Linked DNA regions of Homo sapiens. The protein of the gene in region 2 interacts with the protein of the main gene of each other region in a pairwise test. Each region holds a gene or a part of one and is shown on either strand. Other genes may lie near its edges.

Evidence for each region.
Region 1: the proteins of EPN2 (region 2) and TRIM26 interact in binary tests that used the Homo sapiens proteins (3 or more experiments, as listed by UniProt).
Region 3: the proteins of EPN2 (region 2) and PLEKHB2 interact in binary tests that used the Homo sapiens proteins (3 or more experiments, as listed by UniProt).

What each region holds. Positions count from the first base shown.
Region 1 is NC_000006.12:30,196,391-30,203,424, forward strand, and holds part of TRIM26 (tripartite motif-containing protein 26), read right to left. Parts: intron 4,749-7,034; 5' UTR 4,645-4,748; intron 2,875-4,644; 5' UTR 2,714-2,874; coding exon 2,276-2,713; intron 2,135-2,275; coding exon 2,039-2,134; intron 357-2,038; coding exon 126-356; intron 1-125.
Region 2 is NC_000017.11:19,310,360-19,317,393, reverse strand, and holds part of EPN2 (epsin-2), read right to left. Parts: intron 5,343-7,034; coding exon 5,250-5,342; intron 4,290-5,249; coding exon 4,115-4,289; intron 1-4,114. UniProt on the Homo sapiens protein: Plays a role in the formation of clathrin-coated invaginations and endocytosis.
Region 3 is NC_000002.12:131,108,318-131,115,351, reverse strand, and holds part of PLEKHB2 (pleckstrin homology domain-containing family B member 2), read right to left. Parts: intron 1-7,034. UniProt on the Homo sapiens protein: Involved in retrograde transport of recycling endosomes.

The DNA of each region.
Region 1 (7,034 bases), on a different chromosome or scaffold from region 2:
TTATCATCTCCATGTTTCAGATGACAAAACTGAGCCCCCAAGTCTTCTAAGGTCCTGCAAGTGAATGGCAGGGCTGGGACCCACCGTCCTGGTCCCTGGCGCCCTGCCCAGGGACGGCCTCTCACCTGCATGAGCTCTGCAGCTGGCTGCTGCGCCTTGCCCTCCAGTTCGGAGATGACCAGGGCCAGCCGGGCAAGCTCCCCGACGCCCCGGCTCTTGAACTTCTCCCTGCCCTCCGTGAGCTCCTGCTCCAGCTTCGCCAGCTGTTCCAGCAGGTGTTCCTCCCGCTCCCTCAGGAACTGATGACCCTGCTCAAACTCAGCCACAATGTACTGCCTCTGGTCCTGGAGCTTCTTCTGCAGGGGGCAGGAAGGGGAGAAGGGCTGACACCTCTGCTCAGGGTGGAGGGCCCAGTGCTGGAGGTGTGCAAGGCTGGCTCGTTCACCTCGCTACCCCCGTTCAGGAATTCTACAGGATCTGGAGTGGGAGGAGCTACAGAGGGTTCCTGGTCCACACTCCGCTTCTCAAAGAAGACTCCAGTAATGAATTAGTTCAGTTCACCCCACCACTATATGGTCAAAACCCTGTCTCCACCTGACTGGTCAGCCACAATCTGTTCTAGCTAAACCAGTACGCTCTGGGGCCCCTAGAGAAACTCTGTGGGTCTCACTCATGAGCCGACGCACTTTTCCCTCCTGGACAAAATCTGTCACCTCTTCCAGGAAGTTTTGCTTGATTAATGTCATCTAAGCCTGACCAGCCCTCTCTTCAGCACCCCACTGTTCAGTCTAAAATATCTATATGTACCCCACCCCTGCCATGTAAGACTGCATCCTGTTTCCTCAGCAAAATTGTGTGACGTCTGTGCTTAGGGACTATGTCCTTTCCTGCCTCCAAATCTCCTCCCCAGCTGGGGTTGGGGGAGTCCTCAGTGGCCCTGTTGACTGGTGCTGAGCTGGGGGCAGCCATGCACACTGAGGGCCTGGAGGGGTCCTTGGACTTGGCTGTCTCTAGCTTACTGTTTCCCTCTCCCTAGGCCTAATGACTCACCACTGGCCCTGACCCCACTACTCCTCCACTGCCCACTTCCTCAACATACACAGTTCCCCAGAAAATCAGAACCATTTGATCAGTTCCCCCCAACCCCATCTCTAATCAAGTACATAATGTGCTGCCTGTTTTCTAACTACAGTTGTCCCTTGGTATCAGTGGGTGATGGGTTCCAGGATCTCCCTCCCCAAGGATACCAAAATCCAAGGATGCTCAAGTTCTTATGTAAAATGGAATAATAGTTACATAAAATCTACTATATACTTTAAATTATCACTAGATTACTTATAATGCCTAATATAATGTAAATGCTATATAAATAGCTGTTACACTGAATTGTTTAGAGAATAATGACAAGAAAAAAAATCTGTACATGTTCAGTAGAGACGCTTTTTCTTTTTTCTGAATATTTCTGATCCATGGTTGGGTAAATTCGCCGCTACGGAACCCACAGATATGGAGGAGGTCCCACTGTACTGGCAACCATGATCCTGGGCCTGGACCTCACTACATACAGTGCCATCAGAATTGGCAGACCTGCCTTAGCTGTTTTCTAGCCCTTCCCTCTCAGTTCTTACCCTGGAGCCAGCTCCCTCCTTCTAAACCCTCTCCACTCTCAGGCAACCTTGTCTCTCTCTCTCTCTTTGAAAGGAAGAATGAAGCCACACCTTCTTCAGTCCCCTGGCAGAAGAGAACCAGCAGCTGGACATGGGCCCTGCCTTCAAGGTGACAGTCACAGAAAACGGAAGGGACTCTAGCTGACATCCAGGCAGCCCACTTGTCTCTCAGACAAGAAACAGGCCCAAGACTACACGGCTCAGAAAGACAGCACTTGGGCTAAAACCCAGGTCTGCTACTGCCAGGCTGACACCCATCCTCCCTGTGAGCAGCGCCTAGAAACACCTCCCAGCTGCCGCCTACTTGCCCAGGCTCACCCTGCCCTACACGGGCGCACCGCCTCAGGGCTTCCTGAAACAGCCTCACTTACCAGCGCGGCCAGGATATCAGCTTCTCCCTTTGCCTGGAAGCCCTGAATTTTGTCTCTGTCCCTCCTTAGGGTACTCAGGTGGTTCAGGATTTTTTCCTGTGGAAAAACAAGCAGTGGCAACAGGTGGATGCTCTGGGCTGGGGCAGGAAGGGAGACTCAGGCTGAGTCCTCTGAGGACTGCAAGGTGGAGCATCCAGAGAAGGTGGCAAGGCACCCTCGGGGGTGAAGAGGGCTTACCCTGTGGGGCTGGGCGGCCTTCTCCATGAGGACGGCCGTGTGGGGCCTGTGCTCCCGGGACTCCCGGCACATCACGCACAGCAGCTTCCCGTCGTCCTCACAGTAGTAGTGCAGCTTCTCTCGGTGTCGCTCGCACAACTTTGCATCCTGCTGCTCCCGGGTCACCTCTCCCGGCTGCCTGCCCTTGTCCACCTTCAGCCGCTCAATGTTCTCCACCAGGCTGGCCAGTTGCCACACGGGTCGGATGTTCTCCTTCTTAAAAGGCTTCTTGCAGAGTGGGCAGACGGGGCGGCTCCCTGAGATGGGGCGGACGTCTGTGGTGCAGCTGCGGCAGAAGACGTGGCCACAGTCAATGGTCACAGGGTCCCGCAGGTAATCAAGACAGATGGAGCAGGTCACCTCCTCTTCCAGGCTCCGTAGTGGGGCTGACGTGGCCATGGTATCCTTAGTTCAGAGAGGTCTCCGTTCACTGGTGAGGACTTCTTCTCCTTGGAGACGCGACATAGAGTCAGGAGCAAGCACAGTAAAGGGGCAAAGGTGGCAGCCTGCACAGGGCTGCCAGCTCCAGCACTCAGTCAATCGACAGACACCACCAGCTCCTACAAGGTTCACACAATGTCAACGAGAAGAGGACCTTATAGATCTAGTCCAACTTCCTCATTGTACAGATAAGGATATGGAAACCCAGAAAGATTAGCTTGGTAGAGTGAAGAGCAGGACAGCCACTAGCCTATACCTTGCTGTTGGGAGAGCCTCAACACCCTTTCCTTCTATCTGTTGGAAAATCGCTGTAATGCACCAACTGTAATAAAAAATCTCTCACTACCTGCTGGGAAACTCATAATGATACACATATAAATCTACAATGTCTACTGTGGACACAGTGCTCCTTCACTCAACTGTGCAAAGCACAAGACACACGAGCAGTCATGGGGGTCCTGACAGAGTCAAGAGACCGCCCGTTTTTTTTTTTTGGTTTTTTTTTTTTTGAGATGGAGTCTTACTCTGTCGCCCAGGCTGGAGTGCAGTGGCGTGATCTCAGCTCACTGCAACCTCCGCCTCCCAGGTTCACACCATTCTCCTGCCTCAGCCTCCCGAGTAGCTGGGACTACAGGCACCCACCACCACACCTGGCTAATTTTTTGTATTTTTAGTAGAGACGGGGTTTCACCGTGTTAGCCAGGATGGTCTTGATCTCCCGACCTCGTGATCCACCTGCCTCGGCCTCCCAAAGTGCTGGGATTACAGGCGTGAGCCACTGCACCTGGCCAAGAGACCCCTTTTGTTTGCTCCTCAAGGTTTCAGGTTTCAAGAACTAAGAGAGGGCAATGTGACATGGCTCACCCTGTAAATCCAACACTTTGGGTGGCTGAGGCAGGAGGATCACTTGAACCGAGGAGTTTGAAACCAGCCTCAGCAACATAGTGAGACCCTGTCTCAACTAAAAAAATTTAAAAATTTTTTAAAATACCCCAGTGTAGTAGCATGCATCTGTAGTCTCAGCTACTGAGGAGGCTGTGGCAGAAGGATTACTTGAATCTGGGAGGTGGAGGCTACAGTGAGCCATGATTGTACTACTACACTCCAGACTGGGCAACAGAATAAGAGACTGTCTCAAAACAAACAAAAAACCAGAAAACATTAAAAAACAAACAAACAAACAGCACTGAGGTTCTTTACCAAAACTCGAGAAGCATCAGGAAGCTTCAGGAGTCTGACTGTCAGCATTTCCCTTTGTGAGTATTTCCCTGGGCTGTTCTATAGTTTGGGTTTAATTTGCTTCCCCTAGAAGGCTGGACTCTAAACACAGCCCTCCAGAGGAGCACAGCTTAGCCTCAGTGGACTTGTTCTTGGCTGTAACTGCCTCGTCTAGATGGCAGGAATCCTCAGGTGGCTGTGGCTGCTATGTGCTGTGAGGCCTTGGCTTGTACAGGGAGCGGGGACACACAGAAAGGACTCTGCTTCTGTTTACCTTTGTAGTCCTGACCCAGTTCCAGGCTGAGGTTATGAGCCTCAGCACATCTAACCCAAGAGCAGCCTCCTGCCCCTGACTCTGTGTGACAATACAGAAGTCACTTAAGTACTGAGCCTCAGTGTATCCATCTGTAAAATGGGAAGAGTGATACTTACCTTTAAGGGTTTCTAAGCAGGTCATGTGAAAGAATTATGGGAAAAGTGCTAAGCACAAGCCTGGTACACAGACGGAAATCTAGGAGAGAACCCACAACCCCTGGTTTCCAAATCCAGTGAGTGTCCAAACCACAAACAAAGAGTTAAATTCAAAAGTGGCAGCAAAAGAGGAAGTGAGCAGAACCAGCCACAGTGACACACGTGCTACAGAGTTCAACAACATCGTCACAGGGCAGTACCTGGAGGACTTGCTCTCCTATAGATCCATGGAAGGCAACTACAGCAGCGCTGGGAAGACAACCAGCAGGGCACAGAGGTGACTGCGAGGCTGGAATGAAGCAACCTGAATTACAGGCAAATCAATACTATTAATGATTATGTATGGTGAAAGTCCATCACAACAGAGTTCAGTGGCCTCTGTCAGTAGTGACATTAATGGGACAGAAATAAAACCCCCAGTCTATAAGACCCAAGAGTAAACAAAACAGGGATATAACGTCCACTCATTGAGGGTCTAGTACAATAATACATAAAAAGTGTTTTATAACGTAAAAGGACTACATAAATATAAGAGATTCTTATAGTGCTGATAATAAATTCCAACTGGAAGCACTAATGGATCTAGGTATGTGTGACTTTAAGAGACATAATGAGGGGAAAATCAAGCACCTTCAAAGCTCAAATGAAGGATTCAAGGAATTTAACTGTCAAGTGAAAGTAATATCAAGTTCCTACATGTTAGTAATGCTGGTAGAAATGCTAGGAATTGGCCGGGCACGGTGGCTCACACCTGTAATCCCAACACTTTGGGAGGCCGAGGCAGGTGAATCACAATGTCAGGAGATTGAGACCATCCTGGCTAACACGGTGAAACCCCATCTCTACTAAAAATACAAAAATTATCCAGGTGTGGTAGCATGCACCTGTAGTCCCAGCTACTCAGGAGGCTGAGGCAGGAGAATCAATCACCTCAACCCGGGAGGCAGAGGTTGCAGTGAGCCGAGATCGTGCCATTGCACTCCAGCCTGGGTGACAGAGTGAGACTCCATCTCAAAAAAAAAAAAAGAAAGAAATGCTAGGAATTGCCTGGTCCAACTCCTTGGCTTTACTGTTGAGGAAATAAGCCTGGCTCAGCAGTTTTTCAGTTGTAACATACTGCAAGTGTTTGGAAAGAGGAAAAAGGAGTGGTACTGGGCGTGTCTGTGGGCTTTCAAGCCCTTTATCATGCCTCTTTGCCAAATGGCCTAGAAGTTTAAAAGCTGAGGTTTTTCTTTGTTGAAGGATAGCCTGTGTTATCTTTGGGTTGGGAACTTATTTTGCAATTTACTTGCAAAATAAGAACAATAAAAGGACTATGAAGAGCTCAGCTACAGCTCTTCTTCCATGCAAAACAGGACACCTCATCACCCAGGCTCCATGCTGGGGTTTGATGGTCTCTAAACCTCCTGAAACTGTCTAAAAATTATTGCATATGTACTAGATACCTAAAATTGTCTGGGGATTACAGAAGAATAACCTTCTGTAAGATTAATCAGCAAATAAGTAGAAGAGGGATAACAGAATTAGAAAATCATTTTGCGACTGCCATTATAATAGCACAAGGATCATCAATAGATGCTAAAACTATTAGGTGAAAAGTTTTGGGGGATGAGATAGTACCCATGGTGCCAAAGCACCAATGAATGGATTACTTCCTGACATACCTTCATAAGGAAGAGATCCAGTGGTTATCTTAACTAAGTGACCAAATCCAGCGTCATCAGCAGACGGGGCAAAGTGGCATGTGCTTTCTGGCATGGCACTATATGAATCACACAACATTACCTATGAAGTGTTTGTGCCAAAAATGTTTGACTTGAATGAATCTAGTCAAGACTTTAGATCTAACTTCCAGTTTATAAAAAATATAAAGGAAAGGAATACTCTGAAGTATGTTATAACTGAAAAAGTACCGATGGAGGAATTAAACCACACCATAAGGAAAGAACCAGATAAATCCAGAATGCTGGACATTGCACATGGCAACTGGCCTAGTCTTTTAAAAAGTCAATGTCATAAAAAAAAACCTTCGAAAGAACTGCTTTTGATTTTTACAGACTAAAGAGAAATAATAACCAAATGCAATACGTGAACCTTGATTGGATCCTGTAAAAAGAAAAAAAAGGTTATAAAAATAGTCTTGGAACTATTGTGGGAAATTTGTAAGTAGGCTGGGTGTTAGATCATATTAAAAAATTATTTCCTCTCTTTCTTTTTTTTTTTTTTTTTTTTGAGACAGGGTCTTACTCTGTCCCCCAGAGTGCAGTGGAACTATCTGGGCTCACTGCAACCTCGGCCTCCCTGGCTCAAGCAATCTTCTCATCTCAGGCTCCCGAGTTGCTGCAACAACAGGTGCATACTACCACACTTGGCTAATTTTTAAAGGTTTTTGTAGAGAAGAGTTGCCACTATATTGCCCAGGCTGGTCTCAAACTCCTAGGCTCAAGCCATCCTCCCACCTCAGCCTCCCAAAGTGCTGGGATTATAGGCATGAGCAACTGCACCATGTCTAAAATTATTTTCTTAATGGTATTTACTGAGGTTATGTATGAGAATGCCTATACTTCTTATTTATTTATTAATATATTTA
Region 2 (7,034 bases):
GTACAGAGAGAGGGCTCCAGCCAGCCAAGGTCTTCTGAATCAGCAGGCTATAAGCCCTCCTCAGACCAGGTGGCTGCTTTGTGTGTCTGGAACAGAGGAGGAAGCGCCCCACTGACCTGGCAGGCTCCAATCTCCCTCCTTTCAACCCTGAGCATTTCCTCCCAAGGCCACTTGGCCAAGTTGCTCCTAGTGCTGCTTGGAAAAAACTGGTAATGATGGGGCTCACTACAAATGGTGGCTTTCAAAACAGTGTTTCTTTCATCCAGAGGGCACAGCTAACACTGTTAGGGGAAGGGACTCCAATCTTTCTAATTTATGAATGAGTCTCAGGATGGAGGGGTGACCCTGAAAATTTGCACTATTGGATTTAACTAGATGCTAAACAATAAATCCAATACCACACTCTTGCTCTGAGGCTACGCTGATGGAATGTGGAAGCAGAGGGTGTGCTAACACGCTTCAGTGAATGCAGGAGCTAGCAGAGGGCCATTCTCCTGCAGAGCTGGTCAACACCACCACTGAGAAAAGAATCTCAGAATTAAAAGAAATCACTGTGATTTTAATGTATTTTTCTATTGAAAGCAGAGTGCCAGAACTGCAAAAACACCCCTATGAACATCACTAGGCTGCTTAGTAAATGATGGTACAGCGTGGTATTGTTTAGAATTTCTAATGATGCCTAGAAATGCTCATGACACTACAAATTGAAATATACACATACATACACACGTAATTATATATACAATATAGCTTCAACTGAGTAAAAACATAATGCCCAGAAAAAAGACAGGAAGCAGACAAGCTAACATTTTAACAGTGGCTATCTCTCCATATTGGAATTTGTGGTGACTTTTCCAGGACATGCCAGGGCCACAGAAGGGCCTTGCAGCAGTCCAGGATGGTGTGACAACTACAGGACATGGTGCCATAAGCACTGAGCCTGTCCCAAACCTATTAACAATGTCTATGGGCTTTGGTGGCCTATCTCCTCCCCAAGTCACTGGTAATAATGCCAAGTGCATCAGAACCAAGAAGGTCCTAGGCTGGGCAAGTGGCAAGAGATGGCCAACTGGCAGTCAACAAGCCACATGTGCCCATCCTCAGATAGCTTTTAATTAGCTCAAACCATATTCTTAATTTTTAAAATTCACAGCCAACATTTAAACACTAGATTTCAAAAATCCAGGTTTCTATCTTCTCTTTAAAAAACTGGATTCATAATAGCCAAAATGTGAAAACAGCCCAAATATCCATCAATTGCTGAATGGTTAAACGAAGTGTTGTATATCCATGCAATGGAATATTATTCATCCACAGAAAGTCATGAAGGACTGACACACGCTATAACATTGATGAACCTTGAAAACATGATGCTAAACAAAATAAGCCAGGCACAAAAGTCCACACAGTGCATGACTCCGTTTCTATGAAATGTCCAGAGAGGCAAATCCCTGGAGATAGAAAGCACATACTGGTTGCCAGGGCCTGGGTATGCGGTTTCTTTCTGGGGTGATGGAAATGTTCTGGAATTAGATATCTGATGGTGGCTGCACAACATTGTGAATGTGCTGAAAACCAGTGAAGTGTCCGCTTTAAAATGGTTGAAATGGGCCAGGAGCGGTGCCTCATGCCTGTAATCCCAACACTTTGGGAGGCCGAGGCAAGCGGATCACTTAAGGTCAGGAGTTTGAGACCAGCCCAGCCAACATGGTGAAACCCCGTCTCTACTAAAAATAAAAAACTAGTTGGTGTGGTGGCACAAGCCTGTAATCCCAGCTACTCAGGAGGATGAAGCAGGAGAATTGCTTGAACCTGGGAGGCGAAGGTTGCAATGAGCTAAGATGGTGCCACTGCACTCCAGCCTGGGCAATAGTGAGACTGTCTCAAAAAAAAGAAAAAAAAAAGTTGAAATGGTGAATTTTATCTCAAGTTCTTAAAATTTGGGAGGGCAGATTCACATGGGCAGCATTCCTAGGTGAAGCAGCAGCCCATCAAGCCCACCAAGTTGCCCCCATTCATCAGGGGAGACTCCTCCGCTCACACCCCCTGGACTCCTGTACCGAGTCTCACCCCAGGGTGCTCTCAACATGGTATTGCTATTACGCTATGTTCCTAGAGGGTCAGGTCAGGTCCTTGGCTCGGCCCAGAACACTGGGTCCAGGGCACAGCCCTGTTCACCAGCCAAAGGAGGGGCTGGGCATAACTTGGTCATTTAAAGATATTTTGAGATTTTTGTCTCTCCTGACTGGGAAAAACTTACCCCTGGTAAACAAGCCAAACAATATAAAAAGGTAAAGTGTTAAAACTAAGTCTCCTTCCCACCACTCTGATCCCCAATTCCCTCCCCAGAATTTAACTCTATTAAACCCACCTGGCTCCTGGTGTGACCACTTTCTTTACAGGGCACTAAGACAACTATCCGACAGTTTAATGAACAGTCTTTCCTGAAAACATCCTAACCATAACTTATGGTGGCCATCACTTTACAGACTAATCATTCTTCAGATTTAAAAATAAAGCCAAAGCCACTGTCTAAAAGGGTCTGCCAGCCCTGGGGCACCACAGTCCCCATGTGTGGTGAGTAAAACCATACCACAGGCTCCCTGGGGGTACCACACACAAGTGACAAACCTTGTGAACCAACCTCTTGAGCAGCCCTGGAACTGGCCTTCAGTCAATGAAAGCTGTGGGCAATTTTGCCTGGGGCTTTTCCCAAGGCCCAGAGGGCTCCTGCCAAAGGGGGTATAAGGCCCTGCCTGGGTTACAGAGGCCACCATCAAGCTATTGGAACTCACCAGATGCTAAAGGGCATCGGGGGCTGACAGTGTCTTCTGGACCAAGTCCAAGCACTTGGTAAGGCTGAGTGCAGGCCCTGAGTGATCTGGGCCCTTCTCCCCTGCTTCCCAGTTCACACCAGCTGGTTGCATCTGCACCCACTCCACCACTCCGTACCCCTCTGCTTCTCACACGCTGAGTCTTCTGCAGGGAACTCCCTGCCTCTTGGTGCCTGGACACCTTCTTTTCCCTGGGGACTCAACGGAAGTGGCCTTCCTCCAAAATGCTTACCTCACACTCCTGGACTCCTGTACTGAGTCTCATCTCATCCCAGGATGCTCTCAAATAACCTCCATCGAGTCCTGGACTACACAGTACTGCTATTACGCTGTGTTCCTGCCCTGCCCGCTCCTGAGCAGGGCCTTGACAACAGACAACAGGGACAATAATCACCTGTTGTCTCAGGGGTCATGCACAGCAGAACACAGCCTGTCACTTGGTACATTTTAGCAAACATCTAGGGAACCGAGTTAAACACAAGAGACGGTTCTGAGAGAAACAGAGACTCCAGGAGATACAGGCAAGATGCCACAAGATATACAAAGTTCCCAAACAGCCCACAGGTCAGCCACGCCCAGTAGGGTTTAGCACACCAGGAGGGGCCTCCCAGGGCACCAGGCCAGGAAGCCTTCATAAAGCCTGCTGGGCCATGCTCCTGCCCAGTGATTAAGAAACTCGTGGGCCCAAGATCATCACCCAAATCAAACCAGTTGTGTCATGCTCACATTTTGAACTTCCCACCACAATTCCTCTTACATCTCACATTAAGCAAAACTTTAAAATATTCATTTAGCCTATTAAACGGATTTTCTATTGCTTTAAGTAACAAGCAGAATTATAGCAAATGTATCCCCTTTTCATCAGCAGTGGTGGTAAGCACATCATAATTTCCATCTAATTACAGCAGCTTGATTTGGATGTTCCATGCTGTGTATTTTGGTTCCTTCAGCTGGGACGCTGGGTGTAACGCTGAGGCTGCAAGAGTTGAAACATGTCCCAGAGAAGGCACAAGCCATTTCTGATGCAAATGGGAGGTTGAGGGGAGGTTGACTTTCCTTCTCCCAAAGCAGAAAACCACTCAAAACAAAGAGGGAACACCATGCCACCATCCTCAAGGAGGAGGGCAAGGGCCAGTTGGATATCACTGCTGAGGGCTGGAGGAGCCTGGACACCCACCACAATCGACCAGACCCAAGTGGGTGAGAGACAGCAAGAAGCACTGCCCTGCCCCTCACCCATCCAGCAGGCAAGCACGGGAGACCAGTAATGGGGTCTTTACCAAACGATGGCCAGGGGTCTGAAGTACTCGCAGGAGCCGCTGGCCCGCCCCAGGGGTTGGTCTGGTTAGTGGAGGCTGACGGGCCCCAGGGCTCTGCTTTCTGGGCCGCGGGGCCCGAGCTGGGGAGAGCATCCATTAAATCCAACAGCGTAGTCTGCTGTGGGAGAGAGCCATGCTTTTAAGACAAAGAGAAGGGGACAGGTTTTACTATGCTACAGTTACAGCAAATACTCATGAACTAGCCATAAATATCACCCACCTGTGCCTCTTCCTCCAGTGAAGCCCTCTAGGAGGGGCTGAGAAGAACTTGGAAACTGAGCCGTCCCATCTCCCTCCCCGTCCAGCCAGCTCTCCAGTCACAACAAGCTATTTACTGTTTGCTAAACCCCCTCACCAGACTTCAGAGACCTCAGGGCTCAACAGACTTTTCCAGGCTAACACTGGCTTCTGCCCAGGCTGTGGACCTCCTCCAGAACGCCATCCCTCCCACCTGCCAGCCACCATCCAGGGCCAGCCTGAGGGCCCTCCTCCTCGGGCACCTGCATGCTCCCCACTCTCAAGACCACCCCATGTGTCATCAGGGATCATCAACATCAACCAGTCAGGAGCCAGGGGCTCCACCGGCCTCAGTAGCACTGTAACAGAGGAGGCCAATGGAGCCCCGGGGCCTGTGGTGTAGAAGGGGTCTGGGTCTTGACTGGATGATGATGAGCTTGTCAAGAGCCCAGCCATGTCCTGGTCATCTCTACATCACAGCAGGAAGCCTGGCACAGGGCTGAAGAGGCAACCAGCACTTCTGGGGGCACACCCTGCTGCAGGAAAGCGTTCCGCAGCCCCTGGCATGTAGCTCACTTGACAGCTGCCGTAGCCACAGCGGCAGGAGGCAGGCACTATCATCACCTCCATTTTACAAACGAGCAGACTGAGGCACTGGGACATTAAGTGTCTCCTGGTTAGTTCAGGTGTGTTTTCAGTCGCTTGCTCACCTGGCTCTCGCTCACTACAGGCATGAAGGTTATTTGCTGAGGTTGGAGAACTCACTGTGCATCACGCCATCCAGGCAAGTTGGTGGGGGGATATTGAGGCAACAACTACAGGACAGGGTGAAACATCTACCCTCCCAGCAAGCTCTTACCTCTTTCTTTTTTGGAATTTTAACTGTGTCCCTTCGGCTTTCTTCCAGGGCCATCTGTAATCTGAGGTCATCACCCCGCCTGAGGCGTTCTTCCTGTAGAGGGACAATGCAAACTGGTAATTGTAATAACATCACTGTACAGAACAAAGCCACACTGGCCAGAAACAGGAAATGCACATTGTATGATGCAGTATTTCAAAGGAAGATTTCAAAACTACTTGTAAAACACAATTACTTTCAAATCCCAAATGTGTGTGTACCCAGAAGGCCCCTCCCTCATGGCGACTCCTGTGACTTGGACCCCTGTGGGGTCACACCAGGGAGACTATGGCTCAGGTACCACCAAACTGGGGAAAGGGAATGCTTAATCTAAAATATTTTTTTCTCAAAATGAAACTGGCTTTATAAATTCTACTTATAGAAGCAATGTGTGTCCTTATAAAACACAAATCTGACAACCCAAAAAGGAATTAGAAAGAAGATAAAAATCACGTATCATTCCACCTCCACTGTGTATGCTTCCGGAAAATGGCTGCATATTTCTATGATTCCTAACAGAAATGATTCACTATCTTTATTTAAGGCAAAGTCACCATATGCAAAAGACAGGGTTGTCCTAAGCTTTTATATAATATAATAATTAAATATAAATAATATATTCCTTGTATTTTTTCTTTTCTTGTTTTTAAGAGATAGGGTCTCATGGTATTACCCAGGCTGCTACACAGTAGCTATTCACAGGGACAATGCCACTACTGATCAGCACGGGAGTTTGAACTTGCTCCCTTATATTTTATTATAAATATTAACTAAAATGGGCTCAAACCGTCCGTCTGTCCCTATGTTTCTCAGTGGATGCTACCACGCACCTTCTTCCTGGGCTGCTGGCCATGAAGCCACATGCATCCACCTGGGCAGTTACTGGTGGCCTGTTTCCCACTGCAGGGACAGAGAGGCCACAACTGAGATTGCCCACTGTCACTGAGCTTTAGAATGTTGCCAGTTATAGACACACAAACAATGCCGGGATGAACTTGTCAGTACTCAAATCTAACTATCCCCAGTATTCCTCTCTGAACACCAACTTCTAATAGAGGAGAGGAATCCCTGTGCTGCCCCTGGTCCCATCTACCTTTTTTAACCAAAGGTCATTGGAGACAGCCCTGATAACTGCAACCAAAGGCTTGACAATTTGTAAGGCCACTCTAATTGCTCCTTTCCCTTCTCGCTGTTGTAAAGTAATGCATGCTTACTAAAGAAAAATGGGGGCCAGGCACGGTGGCCCAAGACTGTACTCTCAGCACTTTGGGAGGCCGAGGTGGGCAGATCACTTGAGGTCAGAAGTTTGAGACCAGCCCGACCAACATGGTGAAACCCTGTCTCTACTAAAAATACAAAAATTAGCCGGGCATGGTGGCACGCGCCTGAAATCCCAGCTACTCGGGACGCTGAGGCACGAGAATCACTTGAACCCAGGACGCGGAGGTCTCAGGGAGCCAAGATTGCACCACTGCACTCCAGCCTGGGTGACAGAGTGAGACTCTGATTCAAAAAAAAAAAAAAAAAAAAAAAAGAAAGAAGGAGAAAGAGAGAAAGAAAAGAAAAGAGAAAAGAAAAGAAAAATGGGAACTGAAAAAAACTAAAACTATACATACTTCCATCATCAAAACACAAGCACTCTCATTTCGGGAGCATTTTTTCCCAGCCTTTGTTTTTTGCAAATCTCTTGCTACAGGTCAAAGTGCTTGGCGGGGGCTGGGCTGGCTCCTGCCCCTCAGGCCTGCA
Region 3 (7,034 bases), on a different chromosome or scaffold from region 2:
AAAAAAAAAAGACATACTTTCTGATAATGGTTTGGCTTTATTCCTACCCAAATCTCACCTTGAATTGTAATAATCCCCACATGTCAACAGTGAGGCCAGGTGGAGATAACTGAATCATGGGGACAGTTTCCCCCATACTGTTCTCATGGTAGTGAATAAGTCTCACAAGATCTGACAGTTTTATAAATGGGAGTTCCCCGCACAAGTTCTCTTGCCTGCCACCATGTAAGACATGACTTTGTTCCTCATTTGCCTTCCACCATGATTGTGAGAACTCCCCAGCCATGTGGAACTGTGAGTCAACTAAACCTCCTTCCTTTATAAATCACCCAGTCTTGGGTATATCTTTATTAGCAGCGTGAGAACAGACTAATACAGTAAACTGGTACCAGTACAGCGGAATGCTACTGAAAAGATAACTGAAAATGTGGAAGCAACTTTGGAAACAGGTAAAAGGCAGAGGTTGGAACAGTTTGGAGGGCTCAGAAGAAGACAGAAAGATGTGGGAAAGTTTGGAACTTCCTAGAGACTTGCTGAGTGGCTTTGACCAAAATGCTGATAGTGATATGGACAATAAGGTCCAGGCTGCACTGGTCTCAGATGGAGATGAGGAACTAGTTGGGAACTGGAGTAAAGGTCACTATTGTTATGTAAAGAGACTGGTGGTATTTTGTCCCTGTCCTAGAGATCTGTGGAAGTTTGAACTTGAGAGAGATGATTTAGGGTATCTAGTAAAAGAAATTTCTAAGCAGCAAAGCCTTCAAGAAGAAGCAGAGCATAAAAGTTTGGAAAATTTGCCAACTGATGATGCAACAGAAAAGAAAAACCCATTTTCTGGGGAGAAATTCAAGCCTGCTGCAGAAATTTGCATAAGTAACAAGAAGTCCAATGTTAATCACCAAGACAATGGGCAAAATGTCTCCAGGGCAGGGATGGGCCATGGCTCACGCCTGTAATCCCAGCACTTTGGGAGGCTGAGGAGGGTGGATCACGAGGTCAGGAGATGGAGACCATCCTGGCTAACACGATGAAACCCCGTCTCTACTAAAAATACAAAAATTAGCCGGGCGTGGGGGCGGGCGCCTGTAGTCCCAGCTACTCGGGAGGCTGAGGCAGGAGAATGGTGCGAACCCAGGAGGCGGAGCTTGCAGTGAGCTGAGATCACGCCACTGCACTCCAGCCTGGGCCACTCCCTCCTGAAATGCAACTAAAATGAGAGTTAAGGAGAAAACAAGGCATAAATCCACAGAGAACAGCAGCAGACAAAAGCAGACGAGACACAACATTTTGAAAGTTCTAAGACAAACAGACAAGTGTCAACTAACATAAAATATGGCCACCTCTACTTTGTTATGTGCTAACAGAAGCCAAAACACAGCAAGCCAACTCCTGCCACATAAAAACAGACTCAGAAATTGGGGGTAAGAGAGAATTCTAGAGGTGGGGAGAAATCAGAAGAATTAATGGAAAGTCTTCAAAGGGGTCACTAGGCACCCTACCCAAGCAGACAGGGACCCTCCCTGATCCTGAAGATGATGCCTCTGGAGACTGGGCGTGGCCACACTACACACAGCTTAAAGTCGCAGGCCACACTTAGAAGAATATAGTCCGTGAAAGTCAAATTCTCCATCTTCTTCCTTACTTCTCAGACTCTAGCTCAGAGCAAAGGCATAGTCCCAAGAGGAAAGGCTCACTGATACTGACAACTGGGTGTTCTGTAATGAAAAAGCCAAACTTTGCCTAACACCCTCCAGAGAAGCTCACCAAGAGACAGACTTGAAGCAAACACACAGACTTCCAATCAGCTTTTCAGTACCTCTCTTAAATAGGAATACAGAGCAAGTATCATCAGTCTGAGTAGAAAAAAATACTGTTTTTCCTCTGCTCTCACGTCACAACAATCAACATAGAAGACTTCTGTGACCAAATGTGTGAGGGTTTCTCCCCACATACCAAGCAAGAAATCAATTATGCAGCAGGCCCATGCACAGTGTTGCGCATCTGTAATCCCAACATTTTAGGAGGAGAAGGTCAGGGGACCACTTGAGCTCAGGAGTTTGAGACTAGCCTAGGCAACATGGTGAAACCTCATCCATACAAAAATCAGCGGGGCATGGTGGCACACACCTGTAGTCCCAGCTACTGGGGGGCTGAGGTAAGAGGACCACTTGAGCCTGGGATGGGGAGGTTGCAGTGAGCCGTGATCACACCACTACATTCCAACCTGGGCAGGAGTGAGACCCGGTCTCAAAAAAAAAAAAAAATTCTTCAGCGAACACCAACTAGGTGTCCTGCAATTCAACTGTCACACTATCTACCTGGAGATAGCATCAGATCCCACAGGTTGAGGGCTCAGTCCCACAAGACTGCCCACCCTTCAGACACCAGCCACAAGTCAGGGCCTCTGGAACATGTGATCAACTAGCTTTAAGTCAGTGAGAAAGAAAAGTAGCTCAGAGCAATCTGAAGAACATAAAGCCGGCAAAATTTAGAAAATGGGTCTTTAGTTACCACAGCCCCAGCCACGCTCAGGGTTAACTGTTTAAAGGGACTTGGGGTTTTTTTAATCTTCCCTTTCCTGTAGTTTCCAGACAAGCTGATAAATTACCAAGACTGTTACTACAAGTTACACAATGTGACCCTCAATCATTTTCTTCATGTTCCTGGAATGTGTGGTACAAAGAACAATATACAGCCAACCAATAGTTTATGTTCAACTTAGAAACTGCCCCTATTTTTGCCCTTTAAAATCCCACTTCTAACTGTTGCTACTCAAAGCATATATTCAGAGCAACTTGAATCTATGCTTCCCAGGTTGCTGTCCTCAAATCTGGCCTAAATAAACTCTCTATTTATAGTAATTTTTGCTTTAGTTTCTTTCTTTAGGTCTATTAGAATTCCCCCATCTCCCTGTGTTTGATTAATTTGCTAGAGCAGCTCACAAAATTCAGGTAAACAATGACTTATATTTACCAGTTTATTATAAAGGGTATTACAAAGGACACAGATGAAGAGATGTATAGGGCAAGGTGTTAGTGTTCAGGCCTCTCCAGGCACACCACCCTCCCTCCAGGAACCTCCAGGTGTTCGGCTATTCTGGAGGCTCCCCAAACCCAATCCTTTTGGGTTTTTATGGAGGCCTCATTACATTAGCATGATTGATTAAACCAACAGCCACTGGTGATCAACATCACCTTGAACCCCTCTCTCCTTCCTGGAAGGTTGGGGGGCAGACATGAAAGTTCCAACCCTCTAAAGTCGCATAGGTGTTTCAGATGACCAGCTCCCATCCTGAAGGGAGTCTGCAGGCCATCAATCAATCATTAGCATACAAAAAGACATCATTTTGGAGATTTTTAAGGATTGTATTAAATAGGAGTTGTAAGGCAGGAAATGAGGTCAAAGACAAAATAAACATTTCACAGTACCACAATCAGACACTGGAGAAAAATCTAGACCATAAAAGATAGAGATTAAAGAAAATAAAATTTTCAAGAAAAAAACCTCAAGAATCAGAGACAATGCTGGGTACAAAAGAAAACTTTAAAAATATTACTTTACAGCTGGCCACAGTGGCTCACGCCTATAATCCCAACACTTTAGGAGGCCGAGGAGAGTAGATCACTTGAGGTCAGGAGTTCGAGACCAGCCTGGCCAACATGGTGAAACCCCGTCTCTACTAAAAATACAAAAATTAGTTGGGCGTGGTGGCAGGCTCCTGTAGTCCCAGCTACTCAGGAGGCTGAGGCAGGAGAATGGCGTGAACCCGGGAGGCGGAGCTTGCAGTGAGCCGAGATAGTGCCACTGCACTCCAGCCTGGGTGACTGGAGTGAGACTCCATCTCAAAAAAAAAAAAAACAAGAATAAAAAGAAATATTCAGAGCTCTCAATTAAAAATAATAACCAAAATTAAAAATTCAATACAAGAGTTGGAAAGATCAAGATGGAAGAAATCTCTCTGAAATGAAGAGCTAAAAAAAAAAAAAAAAAAGACCAAGAGATGGAAAAAAATTAGAGGATGAGCCTGGAATATAAAATATTCTGCTGGCTGGGCACAGTGGCTCATACCTGTTAATCACAGCACTTTGGGAGGCTGAGGTGGGTAGATCACTTGGGGTCAGGAGTTCAAGACGAGCCTGGCCAGTATGGTGAAACCCCATCTCTACTAAAAATACAAAAATTAGCCAGGCATGGTGGCACGCACTTGTAGTCCCAGCTACTGAGCAGGCTGAGGCAGGAGAATCACTTGAACCCGGGAGACGGAGGTTGCAGTGAGCTGAGATCCCACCACTGCATTCCAGCCTGGGCATCACAGCGAGACTCCGTCTCAAAAAAAAAAATTCTGCTTATAGGAGAATTTCATAAATAAACCACAGAGAAAAGAGCAGAGAAATAATACTATAAAACCATTTCCTGCAACAGGATAACACATTTCTAGATTCAAAAGATCCAATGACTGTCCAGCATGATGAATTTTAAAAGATTCTCCATAGGTAGGATGACTGAAATTTCATAACATCAAGGACAAAGAAGAGAACCTAAAAACTTCCCAAAGAAAAAAGCATATATAAAGGATCAACAATCAGCAAGACACAGGACATCTAGAGCAATACCTTCAAAATGCTAACGGAAAATTATTTCCAAGCCAGAATTCCACACCCAGTCAAATCATTAATCAAGGCCAGGCATGGTGGCTCTTGAGCATAATCCCAACACTTTGGGAAGCCAAGGTGGGAGAATCGCTTCAGCCCAGGAGTTTGAGACCAACCCAGCAACACAGTGAGACATTCTCAACAAAAAAATAAGAAGTTAGCTGCACATAGTGGTGCACGCCTGTAGTCCCACCTACTCGGGAGACTGAGGTAGGAAGATCGCTTGAGCCCAGAAGGTAGAAGCACAGTAAGCCATGAATGATCATGTCACTGCACTCCAGCCTGGGCGACAGAGTAGGATTCGGTCTTCAACTGGCAGGGGAGGAAATTCCCAGAAAGGCAGCTGTGCAGAAGGACTGGGGAGGAAAAAAAAAAAAAAAAACAGTCCAGACTGGAGCAGGACCGAGTACTACAGGGGAGGAAAAAAAGTAACTGACAAATTTCCTACAAGTTTTTGACTCACTGGTGGATTGAAGAGTTTTACAAGGCAGCAAAAGTCTTCTATGATCAAAAGTCAAAAGATTACATGTAAATCAATAGCAATTTTACCATATCCACAAAGATAAAATACTATTTTTTTTTTTTGAGACGGAGTCTCACTCTGTCACCCAGGCTGGAGGGCAGTGGCGCGATCTCAGCTCTCTGCAACCTCCACCTCCCAGGTTCATGCCATTCTCCTGCCTCAGCCTCCCGAATAGCTGGGACTACAGGCAACCGCCACCACACCCAGGTAATTTTTTTGTATTTTTAGTAGAGACAGGGTTTCACCGTGTCAGCCAGGATGGTCTCGATCTCCTGACCTCATGATCCACTTGCCTTGGCATCCCAAAGTGCTGGAATTACAGGTGTGAGCCACCACACCCAGCCAAAATACTATTTTAAAAAGTGCCAAAAAAAGGTGAAAATAGTTGTCTATAGTTTAAAAAGGGGGTGGACAAGAGATTGATATATTTTTTTTTATTCTAAGGTTTAAAGCACTATTTGGTTGTTTTTTTTGTTTGTTTGTTTTGAGACAGAGTTTCGCTCTTGTTGCCCAGGCTGGAGTATAGTGGCGCGATCTTGGCTCACTGCACCCATCGCCTTCCAGGTTCAAGCGATTCTCCTGCCTCAGCCTCCCAAGTAGCTGGGATTACAGGCGCCCACCACCACGCACAGCTGATTTTTGTACTTTTAGTACAGACGGGATTTTACCACGTTGGTCAGGCTGGTCTCAAACTCCTGACCTCAGGGGATCCACCCGCCTCAGCCTCCAAAAGTGCTGGCCTCCAAAAGCTTGAGCCACCACGCTCAGCCTATTTGGTCTTTCAATCTATGTACATGTATTATTTTGATAAATGTAAACATGTAAACAATAACCTGAATTATCTTCAACTATACCAAAACAAAAAAACCAACCTAAATTAATCTACCTATTTGAACCTTCCAACAGTGCTCTGCTTTCGTTTTTAAATTGGGGAGAGAAATTTAGAGAGTATCTTTAGAAACCAAAAATCATGAAGTATGATTTTGATCACATTTTGTTTTGTTTTTGTAGAGACGAGGTTTCACTATGTTGCCCAAGCTGGTCTCGAACTCCTGGGCTCAAGGGATTCTTCCATCTCAGCCTCCCAAAGTTCTGGGATTACAGGTATGAGCCACTGCAGTCAGCCTATCATATGCTTTTGAAATTTCACAGAACCCAGTGTTTGGGTATAAGCTTTAGAGTTAAAAGACCTATGTTCAGATCCTGACTCAATCGGACAAGTCACGTTTCCAAGCCTGATCTATAAAACGAAAATTCCCACCACCTACTTGACAGGATGTTCGGAAAATTGGGTGAAATAATATGTAAGTAGTTGGCATGGTGCCTCACAGTTACTAGAACTCGATAAATGGTAGCTGCTTTGACAGCAATTATTACTATTTACTACTATTATTACTATTACTTATTTTCCCCCTTACCAAAATTTGCCGAAAATATTCTAGAACAAGCTTGTCCAACTCATGGCCCCAGCCCAGGTCAGCTTTGAATGCAGCCCAACACAAATTTGTAAACTTTCTTAAAACGTTATGAGATTTTTTTGCAATTTTATTTTTTAGTGCATCAGCTATCATTAGGGTTAGTGTATTTTATGTATGGCCTTCTTCCAATGTGGCCCAAGAAAGTCTAAAGATTGGACAGCCCTGTTCTAAGAACAAGGACATCAAGCTGCTTCTCAAATGGCTCAGAAGACTTCTGTTTGATTGCCTTAGCATGCTGAATTTCACACCACTCCATAACTTAATTCAACATTTCACTATTTATATCCTGGAGCAAAACTGAATGCATAAACTAAAACTCATCAGATAAACACTAAGCCCTAGCTGTTGGTCTCTAGAGAATAAAACACCAGCAAACTAGCT